Homo sapiens: one gene and its partner. Each later gene encodes a partner of the first gene's protein in a complex. Each region holds a gene or a part of one and is shown in the gene's direction. Other genes may lie near its edges.

Evidence for each region.
Region 2: the proteins of ZFYVE16 (region 1) and PTPN23 are in contact, whole or in part, in a crystal structure (PDB 5MK0), measured with the Homo sapiens proteins. Residues at the interface, in NP_001098721.2 of Homo sapiens: Asp2, Tyr4, Phe5, Ala8, Val9, Leu12, Asp13, Leu15, Leu16, Asp17, Phe19, Glu20, Gln21; in NP_056281.1 of Homo sapiens: Phe62, His125, Glu137, Glu138, Lys141, Val142, Cys144, Thr145, His146, Gln148, Cys149, Leu189, Lys192, Ser193, Asp196, Arg198, Lys199, Phe201, Leu202, Arg205, Ile206, Ala336, Leu338, Leu342, Asp348, Ala350, Val351.

What each region holds. Positions count from the first base shown.
Region 1 is NC_000005.10:80,431,797-80,435,718, forward strand, and holds part of ZFYVE16 (zinc finger FYVE domain-containing protein 16), read left to right. Parts: intron 1-2,312; 5' UTR 2,313-2,351; coding exon 2,352-2,421; intron 2,422-3,922.
Region 2 is NC_000003.12:47,390,757-47,394,678, forward strand, and holds part of PTPN23 (tyrosine-protein phosphatase non-receptor type 23), read left to right. Parts: intron 1-3,922. UniProt on the Homo sapiens protein: Plays a role in sorting of endocytic ubiquitinated cargos into multivesicular bodies (MVBs) via its interaction with the ESCRT-I complex (endosomal sorting complex required for transport I), and possibly also other ESCRT complexes.

The sequences.
Region 1 (3,922 bases):
GATAAACAGCCAAATCATGAGTGAACTCCCATTCACAGTTGCTTCAAAGAGAATAAAATACCTAGGAATCCAACTTACAAGGGAGGTGAAGGACCTCTTCAGGGAGAACTACAAACCACTGCTCAATGAAATAAAAGAGGATACAAACAAATGGAAGAACATTCCATGCTCATGGATAGGGAGAATCAATATCGTGAAAATGGCCATACTGCCCAAGGTAATTTATAGATTCAGTGCCATCCACATCAAGCTACCAATGACTTTCTTCACAGAATTGGCAAAAACTACTTTAAAGTTCATATGGAACCAAAAAAGGGCCCGCATTGCCAAGTCGATCCTAAGCCAAAAAAACAAAGCTGGAGGCATCACGCTACCTGACTTCAAACTATACTACAAGGCTACAGTAACCAAAACAGCATGGTACTGGTACCAAAACAGAGATATAGACAAATGGAACAGAACAGAGCCCTCAGAAATAATACCACACATCTACAACCATCTGATCTTTGACAAACCTGACAAAAACAAGAAATGGGGAAAGGATTCCCTATTTAACAAATGGTGCTGGGAAAACTGGCTAGCCATATGTAGAAAGCTGAAACTGGAATCCCTTCCTTACACCTTATATGAAAATTAATTCAAGATGGGTTAAAGACTTAAATGTTAGACCTAAAACTATAAAAACCCTAGAAGAAAACCTAGGCAATACCATTCAGGACATAGGCATGGGCAAGGACTTCATGTCTGAAGCACCAAAAGCAATGGCAACAAAAGCCAAAATTGACAAATGGGATCAGATTAAACTAAAGAGCATCTGCACAGCAAAAGAAACTACCATCAGAGTGAACAGGCAACCTACAGAATGGGAGAAAATTTTTGCAATCTACTCGTCTGACAAAGGGCAGATACCCAGAATCTACAAAAAAACTCAAACAAATTTACAAGAAAAAAACAAACCAACAACCCCATCAACAAGTGGGCGAAGGATATGAACAGACACTTCTCAAAAGAAGACATATATGCAGCCAAAAAACACATGAAAAAATGCTCATCATCACTGGCCATCAGAGAAATGCAGATCAAAACCACAATGAGATACCGTCTCACACCAGTTAGAATGGCGATCCTTAAAAAGTCAGGAAACAGGTGCTGGAGAGGATGTGGAAAAACAGGAATGCTTTTACACTTGGTGGGATTGTAAACTAGTTCAACCATTGTGGACGTCAGTGTGGCGATTCCTTAGGGATCTAGAACTAGAAATACCATTTGACCCAGCCATCCCATTACTGGGTATATACCCAAAGGACTATAAATCATGCTGCTATAAAGACACATGCACACATATGTTTATTGCGGCACTACTCACAATAGCAAAGACTTGGAACCAACCCAAATGTCCATCAATGATAGACTGGATTAAGAAAATGTGGCACATATACACCATGGAATACTATGCAGCCATAAAAGAGGATGAGTTCATGTCATTTGTAGGGACATGGATGAAGCTGGAAACCATCATTCTCAGCCAACTATCGCAAGGACGAAAAACCAAACACCGCATATTCTCACTCGTAGTTGGGAATTGAACAATGAGAACACCTGGACACAGGAAGGGGAACATCACACACCAGGGCCTGTCGTGGTGTGGGGAGATGTGGGAGGGATAGCATTAGGAGATATACCTAATGTAAATGATGAGTTAATGGGTGCAGCACACCAACATGGGACATGTATACATACGTTAACAAACCTGCACGTTATGCACATGTACCCTAGAACTTAAGGTATAATATAAAAAGTATATAAAAAAAACTCCAGAGAAGTTTATAGAAAGAGATGACATGTAAACCCTGCTGAAAAATAGTTTCATTTGTTAGAATATAATTGTCTTCCACTAAAAAAAGAAAAAAAAAAGCATTTAAGGCTCTAAGTATCTCTTGAAGTACCACTTTTCCTGAATCCCAGAGTTTTTATGTGCATTATTTTTATGCGTTTGTAGTTTGATATGTTGTATTTATAAGTAGTTTTAGCTTTCCATTATGAATTCTTCTTTGACCCATGAGTTATTTAGGTAAGTGTTTAAAAATTTACAATAGTTTATATATGCAAATATTATGTTGTTAGAGTTGGTTTTCATGTCATTTTTACATATACAGGGGCAGTTTCCCCAACTAAATTGTATATTCCTTAAAGCAGCACTCTTAAATTTTATTTCTGTGTCAATTTCTTGACTGTGTTTCCTGGCATGGAATACATGGCATAAAATTTGTTATGTAATTAAATGAAATATTATTATACTTTCTATTTTTTAGGCATACAAGAATTAAATTCTGAATAAGTCTGCAGGTAGGATGGACAGTTATTTTAAAGCAGCTGTCAGTGACTTGGACAAACTCCTTGATGATTTTGAACAGAACCCAGGTTTGTTGATTTTCCATTTTTGCCGCTAATGGGATTTAAAAATATCTGTAATTAAGTTATCTCAGGTATACAGTAATATTAGCAAAATTTTCTTTCAATTTTGGTCACGTTATCTTCTGCAAAAAGTTCATTTATTTCATAATAAGATGTTAGTTGATTCTTAGACTGAATGGGACCCATAGCCAGAAACAGAAGTAAGGAACCTAGAAAGTTTTTTTCTAGATACAAATTAGCTATAAGACAGACATTTCTTTTCTTTTCTTTTCTTTTTATTTTTGAGACAAAGTCTCATTCTGTCTCCCAGGCTGAAGTGCAGTGGCACAATCAGAGCTCATTGCAGCCTCAACCCCCGAGGCTCAAGCATTTCTCCCACTTCAGCCTCCAAGTGGGACCATAGGTGCATGCCACCATGCTGGCTAATTTTTCAGTTATTTGTAGAGACAGAATCTTCCTATGTTGCCCAGGCTGGTCTCGAATTCCGGGGTTCAAGTGATCCTCCTGCTTCAGCCTACCAAAATGTTGGGATTATAGGCATGAGTCATGTACTTGGCCCCAGAAAGACCAACATATGAGCAAGCTAAAAGCAACTTGAGAGTTCTGCATGAATTGATATTTCATTACAACAAGAGATGGTATTTTATTTTATTATTATTTCTTTTTTGAGATGGAGTTTCACTGTTGTTGCCCAGGCTGGAGTGCAGTGGCGCCATGTCAGCTCACTGCAACCTCCACTTCCCGGGTTCAAGCACTTCTTCTGCCTCAGCCTCCTGAGGAGCTGGGATTACAGGCACCCCCCACCATGCCTGGCTAATTTTTTGTTTGTTTGTTTGTTTCTGAGACGGAGTCTCACTCTCTTGTCCAGGCTGGAGTGCAGTGGCATGATCTCGGCTCACTGCAACTTCTGCCTCCCAGGTTCAAGCGATTCTCCTGCCTCAGCCTCCCGAGTAGCTGGGACTACAGGTGCCCACCACCATGCCCAGCTAATTTTTGTATTTTTAGTAGAAACGGGGTTTCACCATATTGGCTAGGCTGGTCTCGAACTCCTGGCCTTGTGATCCACCCGCCTCAGCCTCCCAAAGTGCTGGGATTACAGGCCTGAGCCACCAGGCCCGGCCTAATTTTTGTATTTTTGGTAGAGATGGGGTTTCACCATGTTGGCCAGGCTAGTCTTAAACGCCTGGCCTCAGGTTATCCGCCTGTCTCAGCCTCCCAAAGTGCTGGGATGATAGGCGTGAGCCACCACGTCTGGGTGTTATTTTCTTTAAAACGAAGACTAGGAAACTGGAAGTCAAAACAAAGACGTTGGATTGTTTTTTAGTTCTTCCTTAGTCTGGTTTTTATAGTGCAACTAAGTTTCTTTTTTTTCTAAGAGACAGGGTCTTGCTCTTTCACCCTAGCCGGAGTGCAATGGTGCAGTCATAGCTCACTGCAGCCTTGAATTCCTGCCCTCAGGCAATCCTCTCACCTCAGCCTTCTGAGTAGCTGGGACCACAAGTGTGCG
Region 2 (3,922 bases), on another chromosome or scaffold:
CATAAATATCCTGGCTGCTCCACTGACTCACTGTGTGGCCAGGGATTCATTTTCTGTGCCTGTTTTTCAGAGTTGTTTGTAAGAACCATATTTTTAAAAAATAGAAATGCTCTGGGAGGCTGATGTGGGTCAACTGCTTGAGCCCAGGAGTTTAAGACCAGACTGGGCAACATAGTGAGACTCCCATCTCTATAAAATAAAAAAAAGTTTGGGCGTGATGGCTCATGTCTGTAATCCCAACACTTTGGGAGTCTGAGGCAGAAGGATTGCTTGAGGCTAGAAGTTCCAGACCAGCCTGGGCAATATAGCAAGACACTACCTCTACAGAAAATTAGCTGAGTATGGTGGTATGTGCCTGTAGTTCCGGCTTCTTGGAAGGCTGAGGCAGGAGAATTACTTGGACCCAGGAGTTTGAGACTGCAGTGAGCTATGGTTGCAGTACCACTGTAACTCCAGCCTGGGCAACAGAACAAGACCTTGTCTCGAAAATAAAATAAAACAATAAAAAATAAACTAAAAACAATTTAAATAGAAATGGAATGGTCTAATATGGAAAGAACATGGGCTCTGGAGCCCAAATGCCTGGGTTTCAGTCATATCCCCATCAGTTATTAGCACCGTGACCTTGGTGAATACCCTAACTCTTTGCCTCAGTTTCCTCATTTCCTCATCTGTAAAGTGGTGATGATAATAGTGTCTACCTCTTAGGGTTGTTCTAAGGATGGAGTGATTACTAGGCACTCAGCACAGTGCCTGACCTGTGGTAGGTTCTCAGTTAAGCATCTGCTGCTGATCTTATAGGAGGACGGAGATGAGATTCAGATAGAATGTGACCTCTAGGCATGATTTGCTAGGGGTGGGAGCAGCATCTTTCTGTCACCATTGTGTGAACAGCAGGGTCAGATGTTCCTAGTGATATCACGGGAAGCCTTGTTTCTAGGATGTAGGAGTCTCCTGTCCATCTGATTCCTTTGGCCTCTATCCCACGAGACCTCTGAGCTACACTTTTACTCATTTTCTCTAACCTAAGGGTGGGCAAAACCTCTTACTGCAAGGGAGTTAACCACAGAACATTCTCTCATATAGTCAAGTTTTACCTCATAGCTTAGGCCACATTTTAAAAAATATTTTAGTTAATTAATTATTTTTGAGATAGTGTCACACTCTCACCCAGGCTGGAGTGCAGTGGCACAATCATGGTTCACTGCAACCTTGAACTCCTGGTGTCAAGCAGTCCTCTCACCTCAACCTCCCAACTGGCCAAGAGTATAGGCGCACACCACCACACGTGGCTAATTCTTGTGCTTTTTGTAGAAATGGGGTTTTGCCATGTTGCCCAGGCTTGTCTTGAACTCCTGGGCTCAAACGATCGGCCCACCTTGGCCTCCCAAACTGCTGGGATTACAGGCATGAGCCACTGTGCCTGGCCTATTTTTATTTTTTAATACAGACAGGGTCTCACTCTGACACCCCAGCTGAAGTAAGGTGGTGCCATCATAGCTCACTGCAGCTTCAAACTCCTGAGCTTAAGCAGTCCTGCCTCAGCCTCCCAACTAGCTGAGACCACAGGCATGCACCACCACTCCTGGCTAATTTTTAAATTTTTTTTCGTAGAGATGGGGGTCTCGCCATATTGCCCAGGCTGGTCTGGAACTCCTAGCCTCAAGTGATCCTCTCACCCCAGCCTACCAAAGTGCTGGGATTATAGTCATGAGCCATCATGCCCAACCCAAGGCCACTTTTTGTAGTTGTGTTTTTGTTGTTGTTGTTGTCATAATTATTTTTGAGGGAGGGAGTGGAGAGGGGGTGGAGTTGGATAGATCAGAGTGAAGATTGTTAAATGCCTGTCAGCTCCCTAAAGTTCTTGGTAAATCCTTATGTTTGTGCATAGTTGAAAATTTCTAGGGGGATTTAATTCATGGCTTTTATCATATTCTCAAAGGACCCACAAAAGGCTAAATAAAAACCACTGATAGGGGAAAGTGGTATTCAGGTACCATTTAGCTCTTCAGCAACTCTTAAGACATTTGTTTTCCAAATTTCAAACATATAGAAAAATTGGAAGAATAATTCAGTGCTCACCCAAATTCTCACTATCTAGTATTTTTGTTTTGTTTTGTTTTTAGAGATGGGATTTACTCTTTGTTGCCCAGGCTGGACTTGAACTGCTAGGCTCAAGTGATCCTCCTGCCTCAGCCTCTGGAGTAGCTGAGACTACAGATGTGCGCTGCACCTGGCTGATTCATTTTTAAATTTTTGTAGAGATGGGATTTATTGTTATGTTGCCCAGTCTGGCCTTGAACTCTTGGGGTCAAGTGATCCTCTGGCCTCGGCCTCCCAAAGTGCTGGAAGTACAGGTGTGAACCACTGCACCCAGTGTGTTACCTAGTTTTGTTTGTTTGTTTTGTTTTTTTAAGATGGAGTCTTGCTGTGTGGCCAAGGCTGGAGTGCAGTGTTGTAATCTCAGCTCACTGCAACCTCCCCCTCCTGAGTTCAAGCGATTCTCCTGTCTCAGCCTCCTGAGAAGTTGGGATTACAGGTGCCCACCACCATGCCTGGCTAATTTTTGTGTTTTTAGTAGAGATGGGGTTTCACCATGTTGGTCAGGCTGGTCTCGAACTCCTGACCTCAAGTGATCCACCTGCCTTGGCCTCCCAAAGTGTTGGGATTACAGGCATAAGCCACTGTGCCCGGCTACCTAGTTTTGATGGATGTATTTCACCTTATTTGTTTTCTCTCCAGATAGATAGATAGATAGAGAGAGATCCCACAAGCCCTTTGAAAGTAAGTTTTGGACATCACTTTTCCCGGACACATCTCAGCATGTGTTTCCTAAGAGTGAGGACATTCTACACAATCACAATGTTATTATCATACCTAAGAAAATCTACAATAATTTTCCCCTATCTTTTATGACTTTTCCTTTTTTTTGCAGACTCAGATCCAGCTGGGGTTCTCATATTGCATTTAGTTGTGTTCTGTCCCTTTAATCACTTATTTATTTGTTTATTTATTATTATTATTATTATTTTTGGAAACAGACTGGAGTGTGCACACAGCTCACCACAGCCTCAACCTCCCAGGCTGATTCTCCCACCTCTCCCTCTTGAGTAGCTGGGACTACAGGCGTGGGCTACCATACCCAGCTAATTTTTTTTTTTTTTTTTAATTTGTAGAGATAGGGTCTCATGTTGCCCAGGCTGCTCTGGAACTCCTGGGCTCAACAGTCCTCTGACCTCAGCCACCCAAAGTGCTGGGATTACAGACTTGAGCCACCATATCCAACCTGTTTAATCATTTTTAATCTAGAATAGTCCACTGCTCAACCCCCTCCTTTTACATGACATTAATTTTTTGAAGAGAGTGGGTTCATTGTTGCCCCATTTTCTGAATTTTTCTGAGTGTTTCCTTTTCGTGTTCATCTGTCCTCTGCATTTCCTGTAAAAGCAATCATTTGCTGAGTATACAACACATCTGATAAGGCCCCTACCATTCCTTAATGCTTATTGTTTGAGGCTGGGGTCACTGGCATGACCCTGCCGTCGGCACACAGTATGTTGGAGGCATGTTTGGAATGTGAGCGGAAGAGCAGCTAATGTTCAAGGCAGTGACATTTCGGCTGAGTCTTAGTAGAGAAAGTAGGGACAATGTAGATAGGCATTGATACCTGAGAGCAGCAATTCCCAAGTACTATTGGCTGGTTGTCCCTGGGAGGTGCCAGAGGAAAATCCTTGAAGGTTGTGGGGAGCAGGTTGTTTATTTTTGTAGAGACGGGTCTTGCTCTTTTGCCCAGGCTGATCTCTAATTCCTGACCTGAAGTGATCCTCCCACCTTGGCCACCCAAAGTGTTGGGATTACACGCTTGAGCCACCTCACCCGGCCAGGAACAGGTTGTGCAGGGTCATAAACTCTGTGCCAAAAT